2 separate regions of the Homo sapiens genome follow, and region 2 is linked to region 1. Evidence: fine-mapped expression QTL. Tissue or cell type: esophagus mucosa. Region 1 holds a variant in brackets; the other region holds the start of a gene. All regions are shown on one strand. Distances are between the middles of the regions.

Region 1 (8,000 bases):
TGGGATTACAGGCATGAGCCACCGTGCCCAGCCTAACTTTATAATTCTAAGATCGTGTTCAAACCTTTAAATGCTCTAGGGCTCTAAAATGTTACTATCCTAAGACGGTGACACTAGCGTTTGATTCTTACATTCTATGATTTTTTAAGTTTCTCTGTGGCCAGGACTCTGTGATTCTACAATGGGATGCTCAGCCATTTCAACATGTTGTTATTCATCCCCTCTTGATTTCAAAATCCTGAGCCTCAAGGTTCCTTGCCTTTACTTTCAGGAGGGCCTAGGAATAGGCATTTTGGGGGGGTCCACCTGACCCCTGCTTCTCTGAGAAGTGATCTCTTCCCGCTGTCTACGCACACGGAGTGTTCAGGACTGTTCCATGTGGCTACAACCCTCTTCCCAGTCAAGATGCAGGGACCAAGATCAGCAGGAGACCATCCCCTGGTCCAATGGTGACAACAGTAAGAGCAGTTAACAGTTATGTGCCAGGTATTATGCTAAGCACTACATTAATGTATTTAATCTTGGCGGGGTGTGGTGGCTCACACCTGTAATCCCAGCACTTTGGGAGGCCAGGGCGGGCAGATCACTTGAGGTCAGGAGTTCAAGACCAGCCTAGCCAACACAGTGAAACCCCATCTCTACTAAAAATACAAAAATTAGCCAAGCGTGGTGGCATATGCCTGTAATCCCAGCCACTTGGGAGACTGACGCAGGAGAATCACTTTAACCCAGGAGGTGGAGTCCAGCACCCAGCCGAGACTCACTTGTTTTTATTTATTTATTTATTTATTTTTATTTTTATTTTTTTTGAGACGGAATCTTGCTCTGTCACCCAGGCTGGAGTGCAGTGGCGCGATCTCAGCTCACCACAAGCTCCGCCTCCCGGGCTCACGCCATTCTCCTCTCAGCCTCCAGAGTAGCTGGGACTACAGGCGCCCGCCACCACCCCCAGCTAATTTTTGTATTTTTAGTAGAGACGGGGTTTCACCGTGTTAGCCAGGATGGTCTTATCTCCTGACTTCGTGATCCGCCCGCCTCGGCCTCCCAAAATGCTGGGATTACAGGCATGAACCACCACGCCCGGCCTATTTATTTATTTATTTAGAGATGGAGTCTTGCTCTGTCGCCCAGGCTGGAGTGCAGTGGTGCAGTCTTGGCTCACTGCAACCTCCGCCTTCCGGGTTTAAGCGATTCTCTTGCCTCAGCCTCCTGAGTAGCTGGGATTGGAATGAGACCACCACTTCTCCTGTTGTCCTTCCCAGCTTCTCCCCCACCTCCCCTTTTCCCTAGTTTATAAGACAGGAAAAAAAGGGAGAAAGCAAAACGCTGGAAAAAAACAGAAGTACGATAAATAGCTAGATGACCTTGGCGCCACCATCTGGTCCTGGTGGTTAAAATAATAATAATAATATTAATCCCTGACCAAAACTACTGGTGTTATCTGTAAATTCCAGACATTGTATGAGAAAGCACTGTAAAACGTTTTGTTCTGTTAGCTGATGTCTGTAGCCCCCAGTCACGTTCCTCACGCTTACTTGATCTATCGTGGCCCTTTCACGTGGACCCCTTAGCGTTGTAAGCCCTTAAAAGTGCTAGGAATTTCTTTTTCGGGGAGCTCGGCTCTTAAGACGCTGATGCTCCCGGCCGAATAAAAACCTCTTCCTTCTTTAATCCGGTGTCTGAGGAGTTTTGTCTGTGGCTCGTCCTGCTACAGAATTACAGGCACGCGCCACCGCTCCGGGCTAATTTTTGTATTTTTTTAGTAGACAGGGGGTTTCACCATGTTGGTCAGGCTGGACTTGAACCTCTGACCTCATGATCCACCCACCTCGGCCTCCCAAAGTGCTGGGATTACAGGCGTGAGCCACCGCGCCCGGCCGAGACTCACTATTTTATAAGAGGAGAGAGCAAAGCCAGGAACAGTGGCTCATGCCTCTAACTGCAGCAATTTGGGAGGCTGAGGCAGGTGGATCATTTGAAGTCAGGAGTTTGAGACCAGCCTGGCCAGCATGGTGAAACCTCATCTCTACTAAAAATACAAAAATTAGCCAGGAGTGGTGGCATACACTTATAATCCCAGCTACTTGGGAAGCTAAAGCGGGAGGATGGCTTGAACCTGGGAGGCGGAGGTTGCAGTGAGCCGAGGTCAAGCCACTGCACTCCAGCCTGAGTGATGGAGCAAGACTCTGCCTGGAAAAAAAAAAAAAATAGAGGAGAGAGCAGAGCAGACACAAGAGACACAGAGACAGAGAGGGAGAGAAGAGAGGGTGACTGCTTTGATTCAGGCAAGACTTCTCAGTCCCAGAATGAACCCACTGTTGTGCCAAGACTCAGTCATGTCCAGGTGTATGACTCGAGATTGCTGAAGGAATGCCCGGGGCAGGGCACAGGCACAGGTTATTGGAGAGAAGGAGCAGAGAACATCTCTATGTGGCCAAGACTCCCAGATGGCCCTCCATATAGTCACACACAGCTATCCTAAAGACTACATTTCCCAGCATCCCATTGCAATGAGGCTCCTGGCCAGTGGGAGCAGGCAGAGTGATGTATGGAACTCCCAGGTTCTGCCTGAAACAGGAAAGGGCACTTTCTCTTCTTCTTTCTCTCTTCCTGGCTGGAGGGCAGACTTGGTGACAGCCATCTAGGACCATGAAGGCAGGCTTACTCCCCGATGGATGGCAGAGCCCCAGGTAGATAGAGCCTGGGTCCTGACTCCAGTGAGGTGCCTACAGTCCTGGGCTGCAAACTCTTGGACTTCTACTCAAAAGAGGAGAAAACTTCGATCTCATCTAAGCCACTATATTTGGGGGGCTCTTTGCTACAGCTCCTGGATTCATGTAGCAAACATACCCCGGTTTCCTCCTGTATTACTTACCATGCTCTGCGGCTGCTCTGGTGGGCTGCTCTGGGACGGGGCCGGGGGTGGAATGGGAGCTGGTGGGGCAGGAGCAGGGGGCCCTGCCCTGGCCTCAGATCCCTCAGTGATGGGGGACAGCTCTGGCTCCGGCCCCCCGGGCCCTGGCCCCCCATGACGATGGAAGAGGCGGCTGATGATCTGCTGGTACTGTTTCTTGTGGGTAGGGGGCAGGGCCACAGCAGGGGCCTGCTCCATGGAGCCCCTGCGTTTGAGGGGCCGGGGAATTTCCGCCAACACCCGTGCCACCTCCTCCAGCTCGGGCACCGACTGTGCCTCCGGTGGCAGTGCTGGCTGCAGCCTCGTGGGGCTGAGAGGCCTTGCTACAGGGCCTTCATCCACATCGCCAGCCTCCAGCACTGGTGTCAGCAGCCCCTCTATCTCCGGCTCAGGCTCCAGCTCGGTGGGGGGTTTGGGGGGTCCTAGCCGGAACAAGAGCCCATCAGAGGACAGGTCCCCAGGAGACACCCAACACTCCCTCTCCACAACTTCCAGGGCATACAACCAGCACATGATTTTCTGTGTGACCTCAGGGAAGTTCCTTGCCCTCTCTGGGCTACACTTTCCTTGGGCTGTGAATAATATACAATTATGATGCCTCCCATTTATTGAGCAGTTAGTATGTGCCTGGCGCTTTACATGCCTACCTTATTGTAATCTCACCACTGCTTTGTGAGGTAGATACACTGCCATCTCCACATTACCGAAAGGGAATCTGGGCCTCAGAGAGGACAAGTCAGTTGCCCAAAGCCATGCAGTTGGGACTTGAACTCAGTTCTGGCTGACTCTAGAATCTACTTCTACCAACCGTGATAGATGTGATTTTCTGAGATCCTGAGAGTTTCCTCTCCTAACATCTCAGGCAGAAAACTCCAGCAGGAAGTAGAATCCTGGTGTTTAATGATTTCTTCTCTGTCTTACTCATTCTGACAGTAAAGCAGGTGGAAATAAAAATATGCATTATTGGCTGAGTCGAGTGGCTCACACCTGTAATCCCAGAACTTTGGGAGGCCGAGGCAGGCAGATCTCTTGAGATCAGGAGTTTGAGACCAGCCTGGCCAACATGGTAAAACCCTGTCTCTACTAAAAATACAAAAAAAAAAAAAAAAAAAAAAAAATTAGCTGGGCGTGGTGGCACATGCCTGTAATCCCAGCTACTCGGAAGGCTGAGGCACAGGAATCGCTTGAACCCAGGAGGCGGAGGTTGCAGTGAGCCGAGATTGCACCACTGCACCACTGCACTCCAGCCTGGGCAAAAGAGTGAGATTTCATCTCAAAATATATATA[T/C]ATACACACACACACACAAACACACACACACATTATATATATAGTGTATATATATTTTTATATAGTATGCATATACATATAAATAATACACACACACACACACGGCTGAGCATGGTGGCTCATGCCTGTAATCCCAGCACTTTGGGAGGCTGAGGTGGGTGGATCACCTGAGGTCAGGGGTTCGAGACCAGCCTGGCCAACATGGCAAAACCTCATCTCTACTAAAAACACAAAAAATTAGTTGGGTGTGGTGGTGCATGCCTGTAACCCCAGCTACTTGGGAAGCTGAGGTAGGAGAATCGCTTGAACCTGGGAGGTGTAGGATGCAGTGAGCTGAAACCTCACCACTGCATTCCAGCCTGGGCAAGAAGAGTGAAACTCCATCTTGGCTGGGCACGGTGGTTCACGCCTGTAATCCCAGCACTTTGGGAGGCCGAGGTGGGCAGATCATGAGGTCAGGAGATCGAGACCATCCTGGCTAACATGATGAAACCCCGTCTCTACTAAAAATACAAAAATTAGCTGGGGGTGGTGGTGGGCGCCTGTAGTCCCAGCCACTCGGGAGGCTGAGGCAGGAGAATGGCGTGAACCCGGGAGGCGGAGCTTGCAGTGAGCAAGCACCACTGCACTCCAACCTGGAAGAAAGAGCGAGACTCTGTCTCAAAAAAAAAGAGTGAAACTCTGTCTCAAAAATAAATAAATAAATAAACCCCAAAACACACACACATACACATTATTTCATTGAATCCCCGTCACAATTCTATAGGGTAGATATTATTAATCTCTCTTCACAGACGGGAAACAGAGTTTCGGACAAGTAATTTATCTTCAGTCACACAGCAAGTTAGCAGTGAAGAGAGACTCCAGCCCATCTGCTTAACTCACTGATCTCACACCTCAAAATATTAATAAATTATTATAACTAATATGGTAGCTATTTATTTGAGACTGGGTCTCACTCTGTCACCCAGGCTGGAGTGCAGTGGCGCTATCACAGCTCACTGCAGCCTGGATCTCCCAGGCTTAAATGATCCTCCCACCTCAGCATCCTGAGTAGCTGGGACTACAGGCGCCCACTACCATGCCCGGCAGATTTTTTGTACTTTTATTTTTAGTAAAGTCTATTTTAGTTTCACTATGTTGCCCAGGCTGGTCTTGAACTCCAGAGCTCAAGCAATCCTGTCTGCATTAGCCCACCAAACTGCTAGGATTACAAGGGTGAGCCACGGTGCCTGGCTAATATGGTAGCTATTGATAGCTTACTATGTATCAGATCCTATTTATTTATTTATTTTTGAGACAGAGTCTCACCCTGTCACCTGTGCTGGAGTGCAGTGGCATGATCTTGGCTCACTGCCACCTCCGCCTCCTTGGCTCAAGCTGAGTAGCTAGGACTACAGTGGTGAGCCACCATGCCCAGCTAATTTTTTTTTTTTTTTTTTTTTTTGATAGAGATGGGATTTCATCATGTTGTCCAGGCTGGTCTTGAACTCCTGACCTCAAGTGATCTGCCCACCTCGGCCTCCCAAAGTGCTGGGATTACAGGTGTGAGCAACTGCACCTGGCCCATCAGGTGCTGTTTTAAAGGCTTTATATGAATTTAATAACATATGTCAATAGGATCGATTCTATCATTATTTGCCTTTTTTTTTTTTTTTTTTTTTGAGGCAGAGTCTCCCCGTCACCCAGGATGGACTGCAGTGGCGCAATCTCGGCTCACTGCAACCTCCACCTCCCGGGTCCAAGTGATTCTCCTGCCTCAGCCTCCCAAGTAGCTGGGACTACAGGCGCCCGCCACCATGCCTGGCTAATTTTTGTATTTTTAGTAGAGATGGGGTTTCATATTGGCCAGGCTGGTCTCGAACTTCTGACTTTGTGATCCGCCCGCCTCGGCCTCCCAAAGTGCTGGGATTACAGGCATGAGCCACCGTGCCCGGCCCATTATTTCCCTTTTACACTCAAGAAAATTGAGGCCCAGTGAGGTTAAGTGACTTGCCCAAGGTCACACAGCGTGGAACCAGGCAGTCTGGCTTCAGGGTCCACACTTAACCTTTGAGCTATCCCTGGCTCCTACCCAAATTCCCAAACTCACCTGGCCTAGCTCTCTGCAGGGACAGTGCTTGTAAAGAGGCATTTGGCTGTGATCTCCCCACCTCCCAGGGCTGGTCTGGTCCCCCTGCCATTTGTCCTCCCTTCACCCAGTCCTCTAGGGCCCTCATTGCTGACTCACCTTCGTTCACAGGGGGCCATGTCTGTTGGGGATGCTGGGGGGCTGGGGTAGGGGTTTGGGGTTGGGTCTGGGGCTGTGGGGGCAGCTGGGGCTGTGGTTGTGATTGTGGCTGGGGCTGTGGTTGTGGTTGGGGCTGCAGCTTAGGCGGGGGTGCTCGGGTGAAGAGGGGGGACCCAGGGAGCATGGCGCGGCTGGCCCCGTGCTCCCAGAAGGCGTTCTGCAGCTTGAAGATCATGCTGAGGGGGATGGGACGCTGGCGCGGGGCCCCGCGGGGCTGGGGGCTGGAGGGGGGCATGGGGATGCGGCTGACGGGCTGCCAGCTGCGAGGCAAAGTGCCCGACGGCCCCGCGGAGCCCAGCGAGCGCCGGTAGCTGCCCGCGTCTGAACGCCGGTCGCTGGCCAGAGGAGAGACCTTGTAATTGCGCGGCAGGGTGGCGCTAGTGAGGTTGTCCTGGGGAAGAGGGAAGGGAGAAGGGGATCGGGTGAGAGAGGGAAGGTGGAGGGGAGGTAAAGACAAAAGACGAGAAGGGAGAGGAGGTGAGGGAAGCCCTGGGAGTGAGGGAGAAGAAAGGGTGAGGAAGGAGCAGAAACCCAGCACAGTGAAGGGAGAGCGTGGGAACGGGCGCCGAGACCCAGATCGCAGCCCCGAGGGGGAGACTGGCCTTGACCCCGCTCCCCCACCCCACTCCTCGACCTTCCCCAGCCTCTCCTCCCCAGGCGTCGCCTCCTCACCTTGCCGGTGCCCCCCAGTCCATCCAGGCTGCTCTCCCTCCAAGGCAACAGCTGCAGGCTCGGCGAGGCAGGCCTTGCGAAGACGTCCAGGCCTGCGGGGCGGGAATCATTAGGGTCTGTGGGGCTGCCTCTCCTCCGGGTCCTCCATTCCCCGGGCCTCCACCACTCACGTTCATAGCTCGCTGTCTGCGAAGGCTTCTTCTCGTACGCCACGTCCAGGTCAGACTCGTTCCAGGCTTTCGGAGGCCGCCGGCGCAGCGTCAGGTCGTCTGGGGAGAAGTTTCCAGGGAGGATGAGACGGGAGGGGTGGCGAGCCCCGGATCCTGCCCGCTTTGACCCCGCGAGTCAAAGGCCCCGCGAGGGGCCCCTGGGTTCACCTTGCGCGCGCAGAGGCGGGGCGAATGCGCTGCCGCCGGAGCCTAGCAGGGAGCTCCCGAAGGCGGACGCTGGCGCGTCGTAGGCTGTGGCAGGGGGGCGCGGTGACGGCCCACGCTCGGGGAAGAAGGCCTGGGGCCCCTCCGCCAGGGGGCTGCCGCGGGGGGAGCCTGCGCGGCCCAGGAAGTCGAAAGGCGTGGGGGGACCCTGCTGGCGGAGCGGGCCTGGCCCGGGCCGCGGGGAGGGCGCACGGCCGAGGGAGCTGCCTGCGCCATCGAAGGCGCGGGGCCGGGGCGAGGTCGCGCGGTCCAGGCTGCCGTAGGCGTCCGGCTGCAGGTAGAGCGGGGTGCGCGGCGACGACGGCCGTCCCTTGGGGGACAGCGGGCTGTAGGGGTGTAGGGTTGGGGCACTCTCTGATCGTCCGAACGGGGTGTCTGCGCCGTCGGTGGCCGCCTTCCGGGG
Region 2 (8,128 bases), 52 kb before region 1:
TAGCTGGAGCTAGCACTTTGGAAGGCCGAGGCGGGTAGATCACCTGAGGTCAGGAGTTCGAGACCAGCCTGGCCAACATGGCGAAACCCTGTCTATACTAAAAATATAAAAATTACCTGGGCGTGATGGTGCACACCTGTAATCCCAGCTACTCTGGAGGCTGAGGCAGGAGAATCATTTGAACCCGGGAGATGGAGGTTTCAGTGAGCCGAGATCATGCCATTGCACTCCAGCCTGGGCAACAGAGACACTGTCTTTTTTTTTTTTTTTTTAGGGGATGGAGTTTTGCTCTTGTTGCCCAGGCTGGAGTGCAATGACGCCATCTTGGCTCACTGCAACCTCCGCCTCCCTGGTTCAAGTGATTCTCCTGTCTTAGCCTCCTGACAAGCTGGAATTACAGGCCCATGCCACCAAGCCCGGCTAATTTTTGTAATTTTAGTAGAGACACGGTTTCATCATATTGGTCAGGCTGGTCTCGCCCTCCTGATCTCAGGTGATCCGCCCTCCTGATCTCAGGTGATCCGCCCTCCTAGGCCTCCCAAAGTGCTGGGATTATAGGCATGAGCCACCACTCCCAGTGAGATGCTGTCTTAATTAAAAAAAGGAAGAAAGAAAGAAATAGCTGGAGCTTGGCACAGTGGCTCATGCCTGTAATCCCAGGACTTTGGGAGGCCAAGGCAGGAGGATCGCTTGAGGTCAGGAGTTCAAAACCAGCCTGGGCAATATAGGGAGACCCCCATCTTTACAAAAAACAACAAAAAGTAGCTGGGTATGGTGGTGCATTTGTAGTCCCAGCTACCTGGGACTTGGGAGGCTGAGGAGGGAGCATTGCTTAAACCCGGGAAATCAAGGCTGCAGTGAGTTACGACTGCCACTGCACTCCAGCCTGGGTGACAGAGTGACACCTGTCTTTTAAAAAAGCTAGAGTAGGCCGGGCATGGTGGCTGACGCCTATAATCCCAGCACTCTGGGAGGCCGAAGTGGGTGGATCACCTGAGGTCAAGAGTTCAAGACCAGCCTGGCCAACATGGGAAACTCCATTTCTACAAAAATATAAAAATTAGCAAGGCATGATGGTGGGTGCCTGTAATCCCAGCTGCTTGGGAGGCTGGGGCGGGAGAATCGCTTGAACCTGGGAAGCGGAGGTTACACAATGAGCCAAGATCGTGCCACTGCACTCCAGCCTGGGCAACAGAGCAAGACTGTCTTAAAAAAAAAAAAATGCTGGAGTAGTTAGGATATGAGTTTGAATTTTTATTTCCATGATTCAATCAGCACCTATTCTCCCAAATGCCTTCTCTGCGTTGGGCCTGTGCTAGGTGGCACTGGGGACACAGTGGAGACTGACATGGCCCCTGGCCGCCTCCTCCCTTCTTGGGGCTCATAGTCTAATATGGGACTGACCTGTCTCCCCACACTGATGACCCAGAGTTGGCAGGGCTGGATGTGGGAGCCCAAGAGCCTGGAAACCTGGGAAATAAGAAAGGGCTTCCTGGAGGAGGAAGCATCAGCACTGGGGCTCAGACAACAGGGAAGTAGAGGGCACGTTGGCTGCAATTCGGAGGGAGCGCGGAGCTGTGCCGAGTCTGGAGTTTGGTCCACGGACCAGCAGCGCCCTCTGCTGGAAGCATTTCATAGTGTAGTGACCGGGGTACCGCGCGCATTGAGCCATGTATGTATGTATGCATTTATTTATTTTTGAGATGGAGTTTCGCTCTTGTTGCCCAGGCAGGAGTGTAATGGTGTGATCTCGGCTCACTGCAACCTCTGCCTCTGGGGTTCAAGCGATTCGCCTGCCTCAGCCTCCCAAGTAGCTGGGATTACAGGCGTGCGCTACCACACCCGGCTAATTTTGTATTTTTAGTAGAGATAGGGTTTCACCATGTTGGCCAGGCTGGTCTCGAACTCCTGACCTCAAGTGATCCAGCCCCCTCGGCCTCCCAAAGTGCTGGGATTACAGGTGTGAGCCACTGCGCCGTCCTCAAGTTATATTAGAATCGTGTCCTCCCAGCTTTGGCCAGCTTACTATTCTAGGACTTGATTCCTTCATTCAGTCACAATTTATTGAGCACCGACTTTGCATCAAGCTCTTGCTGAAGATAACAGTGCTGACAATATACAGCCCTGCCCTCAGAGCTTATATAGTAGAGGAGAAAAAGTGAACCCATAATATACAGTCAGTAGCGAGTATTTACTAAGTACTTTCTATTTGCGAGGCCCTGATAAAAGTACTGTCCTGGCCAGGCGCGGTGGCTCACGCCTGTAATTCCAGCACTTTGGGAGGTCGAGGTGGGCAGATCACCTAAGGTCAGGAGTTCGAGATCAGCCTGGCTAACATGGGGAAACCCCGTCTCTACTAAAAATGGAAAAATTAGCTGGGCATGGTGGCGGGCGCCTGTAATCCCAGCTACTCGGGAGGCTGAGACAGGAGAATGACTTGAACCCAGGAGTTGCAGTGAGCCAAGATAAGATAGCGCCATTGTACTCCAGCCTGGGTAACACAGCGAGACTGTGTCTCAAAAAAAAAAAAAAAAAAAAAAAAGTACTGTCCCTGTATTAGTTAACATTCAATTCTCAAAGCCTTAGACTATTTATATTTTATTGACTAGGGAAACTGAGGCACAGAGAGGTTAAGTTACTTGCCCAAGGCCTGCACAGCAAGTAAGTGCCGGAATCAAATTTGAACCCTGAGCCCAATTCTTAGATATCACATTCCCTTGCCAATAACATAATATATAACATAACATAATGATGTGATATATGTTATATAAAATAACTTTAGGGGCCGGGGGCGGTGGCTCACTCCTGTAATCCCAGAACTTTGGGAGGCCGAGGCGGGAGGATCACTTGAGGTCAGGAGTTTGAGACCAGCCTGGCCGACATGGCGAAACCCCGTCTCTACTAGAAATATAAAAAGTAGCCGGGCGTGGTGGCAGACACTTGTAGTCGCAGCTACTCGGGAGACTGAGATGGGAGAATCGCTTGAACTTGGGAGGTGGAGGTTGCAGTGAGCCGAGATCGCGCTACTGCACTCCAGCCTGGGTGACGGAGCGAGACTCCCTCTCAATAAATAAATAAGGTAATTTTAGGCCCTGAAAAGTTTTGTGAACAAAATCAAGAGGAGTATGTAATGTTTTGGTGGAAGGGTGCCATTTAGAAGGGGGCAATCAGGGAAGGCCTGCCGGAGGAGGTGGCCTTTGAGAAGAGACCTAAAGACGATGAGATCTGTGGGAAGAGAGATCGAAGCAGGCCACACAACCAAGGAAAAGGCTCTGGGGCAGGCACTGCAAGAAAGCCACCTGTCTGGGATCTAAAGTTTCCAAAGTTTTAGCTTGGCCAAGGCCCCTGCGCTACAATCACCCTGATTCGAGGTGTCCTGGAGGTTACCAGTTCCGCGTGCGAAGTTCTGCCATTCCCGCGGGGCTGGAGCCCCGAGGCTGAACTTCCCACGGGCGGTGGGCGTGGCCGGCTCACCTGCGGGGGCGTGGCTCCCGGCTGCCCCGCCCCTCGGAGGAGCCGCCCGAGGTCCCAGACGCCCGGCGCAGCGGGAGCGGCGGGGCGTGCCTGGCCTGCGGGACGCGACTGATCGCAGTGGGGCGAAGCGGGGCCGGAGCCGCCCGCGGTCAGGTGGGTGCCGGGAGTGGGGCGCGGGACTCTCGGAGAGCCGCGATGATGGGGGGCGGGGGCAACCCTGGGCCCGCTCGCCCTGAGACGGGGAAGGGCCTTGGGGCTCCCGGATGCCCCCTGCCCCGTCCTGGGGCTCTCCGGGATCTGGAGGCCTGGCTGGGGTCCCATGCCCCCCACCCCAGCGCAGGTAAACAGCGAGGACGGGGCGGGGCCTGGGAGGGAGAGGGAGGGGGCCCTTGTGACTGCGGGTGAGCCTGGTGCGCGGGGCTGGGCAGGCCAGGGTAAGTTGGTGCGGCTTGCGGGGCTGGGCCACGATGGGAGTCTCCTGCCTGCCTGTGTTTGTGTGTGTGTGTGTGTGTGTGTGTGTGGCTTTGCGTGTGTGTAAGAGAGTGTGTCAGGCTGTGGGTATGAGGGTGAAAGCGACTGTCCGTGTAACCCTGTGATGGGACTGTGTGTATGATGTGACACTTTTAGCAATGTGAAAACGTGGGCGACCTCTGACTGGAATGGTGTGTGTGTAGAATTGGATTGCTGGTAGCACTTTACGACCAAGAGCTAGTGCGACTGTAGTCGACTTTCTGCTTGGCCTGATGTGCATGTGTGTGGCTGTGTGTGTGGCTGTCTTCATGGCAGAGAGTGGAACTGGTTGTAGGATTAGGTGTGATTGACCAAGAGGCTGTGCGGCTGTGGTTGTCTTTCTGCCTGTTGGTGTGTGTGTGTGTGTGTGTGTGTGCGCGCGCGCGTGTGGTGGACAGTGTGGCACTGGATCAGTGATAGGTGACTATGATTGACTTTTGATTGTGTGTCACTGTGATGGTGCATGGGGCTGGGCGGAACTGTGTCCAGAAGTGGAGCTGTTTCATGGGACGGTGCGCGTGGAACCTTGGGGTTGGATGAGTGAGGTGTGGAGGTGTGTGAAGCCGTGTGTGCGTGTGTGTGTGTGTGTGTGTGTGTGTAGAGAGGAACTAGAGGGTGTGTGATCTGCATTGATACCGTGGCTGGCAGTGGTGTGCAACGGAGAGTTTGTGGGAGATGGGAGTGGAGACGTGGACATTTAAGTGGGATGCTCCTCCAAGCGGGTGACAGGATGGAAAAGGGGGTCCGCGTCAGGGATCAGTGTGTGGGACTGTGCCTATGATTATCAGCTGTGCGGTTGTGCACCCGGGGCTCTGTGTGAGTGTGGGAGCTGCTGTGTGTCTGGGACACAGCCCGAGTGCTGGATGGCTGTGGTTGAGCCGTGTTTGTTGCTGTGGTTGTCAATCTGGCTGTGGAGTGGTGTGTGTAAGGCTGTGTCTGAGGTTATAGAGGGAGGTTTTACATCGGCAAAATTGTGTGAAGAATGGTTGTGGTTGTCAGGATGACTCTTGAACCTGTGTGGTTGTGAGTTCAACCATTTATGATGTTTGTGTGTGAGGTGTGAGAATAGGTATGGTGTGATATACACAAGCACACAGATTGGCCGGGTGCAGTGGCTCATACCTGTAATCTCAACACTTTGGGAGGCTGAGGCGGCGGGGATTGCTTGAACCCAGGAATCCTAGACTAGCCTGGGCAATATGGTGATACCCCGTCTCTACAAAAACAAAAATTAGCTGGGCATAGTTTAGTTTTTTAAAAATTAAAAAAAGGTTGGCTGGGCGCGGTAGCTCACGCCTGTAATCCCAGCACTTTGGGAGGCCAAGGGGGGAGCGGGTGGATCATTTGAGGTCAGGAGTTTGAGACCAGCCCGGCCAACATGGTGAAACCCCGTCTGTACTAAAAATACAAAAATTAGCCAGGTGTGGTGGCGGGCACCTGTAATTCCAGCTACTTGGGAGGGTGAGGGAGGAGAATCGCTTGAACCTGGGGAGGTGGAGATCGCAGTGAGCCAACATCATGCCATTGCACTCCAGTCTGGGCAACAGAGCGAGACTCAGTCTCAAAAAAATAAAATTAAATTTTTTAAAGGTTGATATATACATCACATATATACACATACATATATCTAGAGAGAGGGAGAGATCAATGACGATCAAGTCTGTGGTGCACAAAACGTACAGGACCCTTACTGTATGTGATCGTGCATGTACAACATGTGCAAAAACCGCTGGGCTGCTTATGGTGGATGCAGTGGCTTGAGTGAAGTGTGCGAGAACGTGGCATCCCTCCACGCGTATTCACAGCTCTCTGTTCCGACAGTGGAGCTGAATCTGAGTACTTGTGTGTGCATGGCGTGTAGGTGTGGGAGTCCCTGCTGGCCAGGCCTGGAGTGGGAGGGAGAGGAAGTAGGGAAACTGGCGAGGGATCCATAGTGAATCTTGGGAGTGTGTGCATCTGGAGGTGCGTTGGGCACATTGTGGGGAGTTGGCTGCTTGGGAGCCATGTGAGTTCGGGGGACAGCGAGTGTCACGGTCAAGTGCAAGGAGATGGTCTGAATGTGAGTGATTTGGGGAGTGGGAGAGACAGAGTTAGTTTCTGCGTGGGTTGGCTTTTCTTTCTTTTTTTTAAATAATATTATCACTTTTTGACACGGAGTTTTGCTCTTGTCACCCAGGCTGGAGTGTGGTGGCGTGATCTTGGCTCACTGCAACCTCCGCCTCTCAGGTTCAAGCAATTCTCATGCCTCAGCCTCATGAGTAGCTGGGGACTACAGGCGCATACCACCATGCCTGGCTAATTTTGTATTTTTAGTAGAGCCGGGGTTTCACCATGTTGGCCAGGCCAGTCTCAAACTCCTGACCTCAACTGATCCACCCACCTCGGCCTCCCAAAGTGCTGGGATTACAGGCGTGAGCCACCGCGCCCAGGCTTGGTTTTTATTTCTAAGAGAATATACCTGTGTGTTGGGAGTGTATACAGATTGTTTTTGAAAGAATAGTATATGTGTGTGCCTGAGTCAGTGTGTTGTCTTAGGTTGTATTTCTAAAAGGAAAATGTAAATGTTTTTACTGAGTTGTATATTTAATAGGAGAAAGTGAGTGCGTGTTCTAAGAGGAGAATGTATATTATGCTGTCCTTTCTTTCTTTCTTTTTTGACTGGGTCTTACTCTTTCACCCAGGCTGAGTGCAGTGGCACTATCATGGCTCACTGCAGCTTCAACCTCCTGGGTTCAAGCAATCCTTCTACCTCAGCCTCCAGGTACACCATCACCACACCCAGCTAATTTTTTTATTTTTATTTTTGTAGGGATGGGGTCTCACTATGTTTCCCAGGCTGGTCTTGAACTCCTGGGCTCAAGTGATCCTCCTGCCTCAGCCAAAATCCCAAAGTGCTCGGAGTACAGGTGTGAGCCACCGCACCCGGCCTACATTGTGTTTCTAATGAGGGAGTGTGTGTGTGTGTGTGTGTGTGTAACTGTATTTCTGGGAGGGTGTGTGTGTGTACCGTCTTTTTTTTTTTTTTTTTTAAATGAAGTCTCACTCTGTTGCCCAGGCTGGATTGCAGTGGTGCGACCTTGGCTCACTGCAACCTCCGCCTCCCGGGTTCAAGCAATTCTCCTGCCTCAGCCTCCCAAGTAGCTGGGACTACAGGCATGCGCCACCATGCTCTGCTATTTTTTTTTTTTTTTTTCCAGTAGAGACAGGGTTTCACCCTGTTGGCCAGGCTGGTCTTGAACTCTTGGCCTCAAGTGATTTACCCACCTTGGCCTCCCAAAGTGCTGGCATTACAGGCGTGAGCCACTACACCTGGCCCCATGTTGTATTGGAGAGAAGGGAGAGTGCGTGTGTGTGTCAAATTGTATTTCGGAGAGGAAAATGTGTATGTTGCATTGTGTCTTTAAGAAGGGAGGGTGCGGGTGTGTGAGGTGTTTCTGAGGAGTGTGTTTGTGTGTATATGAGGACCCCAGAGGCACCACCAGCTAAGTTTCTGTGACCTTGTCACCCACATACAACCACATGAAGTCCCATAGAGGGGGGCCCCCACCCACTATGAGCTGGGCTTCAGACTCTCAGCTGTCACATGGCCAGTGTGACATACCTGGACCACACCTATCACACGTGTGTCCCGACAGGCCCTGGGCTGGCTAAGCTTGTCCGATGGAGGAGGGCGGAGCCCCTGTTCCCCCAGGGTCCATCTGTTGCCTGGGAGCCAACACATGGCCCCATCCTCATTCCCCCCAACCTAGAGGCCTCCTGGGCTTCTGGGGGCCCTGGCCCCTCGGCCCTCTCCTCCCACCCCACCCACCCCCAGTGGTCTGACTGGTTCCCGACAAAAACACCCTAAGAATGAGCTCACGCAGAGGCTGCCGCCTCCACACGCCCCGCCTCACTCTGCCGGCAGAGGAGGGTGCCTCTGGTCCCAGGTCACACGGCCAACCGGGAGCTCTGGGCCAGGGGATCCAAGGGCCTTGGGGTGGGGAAGGCTGGCCAGGTGAGCTGAGGGCAGATGGGGGACCCCAGGCTAGCTGTTTGCTTTCTCTTGGTTAATTACACATAGGATTTGGGAACTGTCCTCAGGGCAGAACCCTGGGTTGGGAGGACAGACGAAGGTAGACAAGACTGTTCCAGATGAGAGCTGGCT

The links. PIP is the estimated chance that this variant, and not a neighbour inherited with it, causes the effect.
Region 2: it holds the start of KLC3, and the variant in region 1 is fine-mapped to the expression of KLC3 in esophagus mucosa (GTEx, PIP 0.94).

What each region holds. Positions count from the first base shown.
Region 1 is chr19:45,389,005-45,397,004 of GRCh38, forward strand. PPP1R13L (protein phosphatase 1 regulatory subunit 13 like) reads right to left here. Exons shown (of 13, transcript NM_006663.4): 4 at 7,541-8,000; 5 at 7,334-7,432; 6 at 7,164-7,255; 7 at 6,432-6,882; 8 at 2,876-3,336. Among named protein-coding and RNA genes, the nearest start is that of PPP1R13L, 12 kb to the right of the region's middle. RefSeq lists enhancers at 2,239-2,298, 2,549-2,598, 2,560-3,078, 3,079-3,595. The variant T/C (reference allele first, on the strand shown) is at 4,202.
Region 2 is chr19:45,337,220-45,345,347 of GRCh38, forward strand. It overlaps KLC3 (kinesin light chain 3), which reads left to right and starts at 3,531. Exons shown (of 13, transcript NM_177417.3): 1 at 3,531-3,627. RefSeq lists a silencer at 3,427-3,516.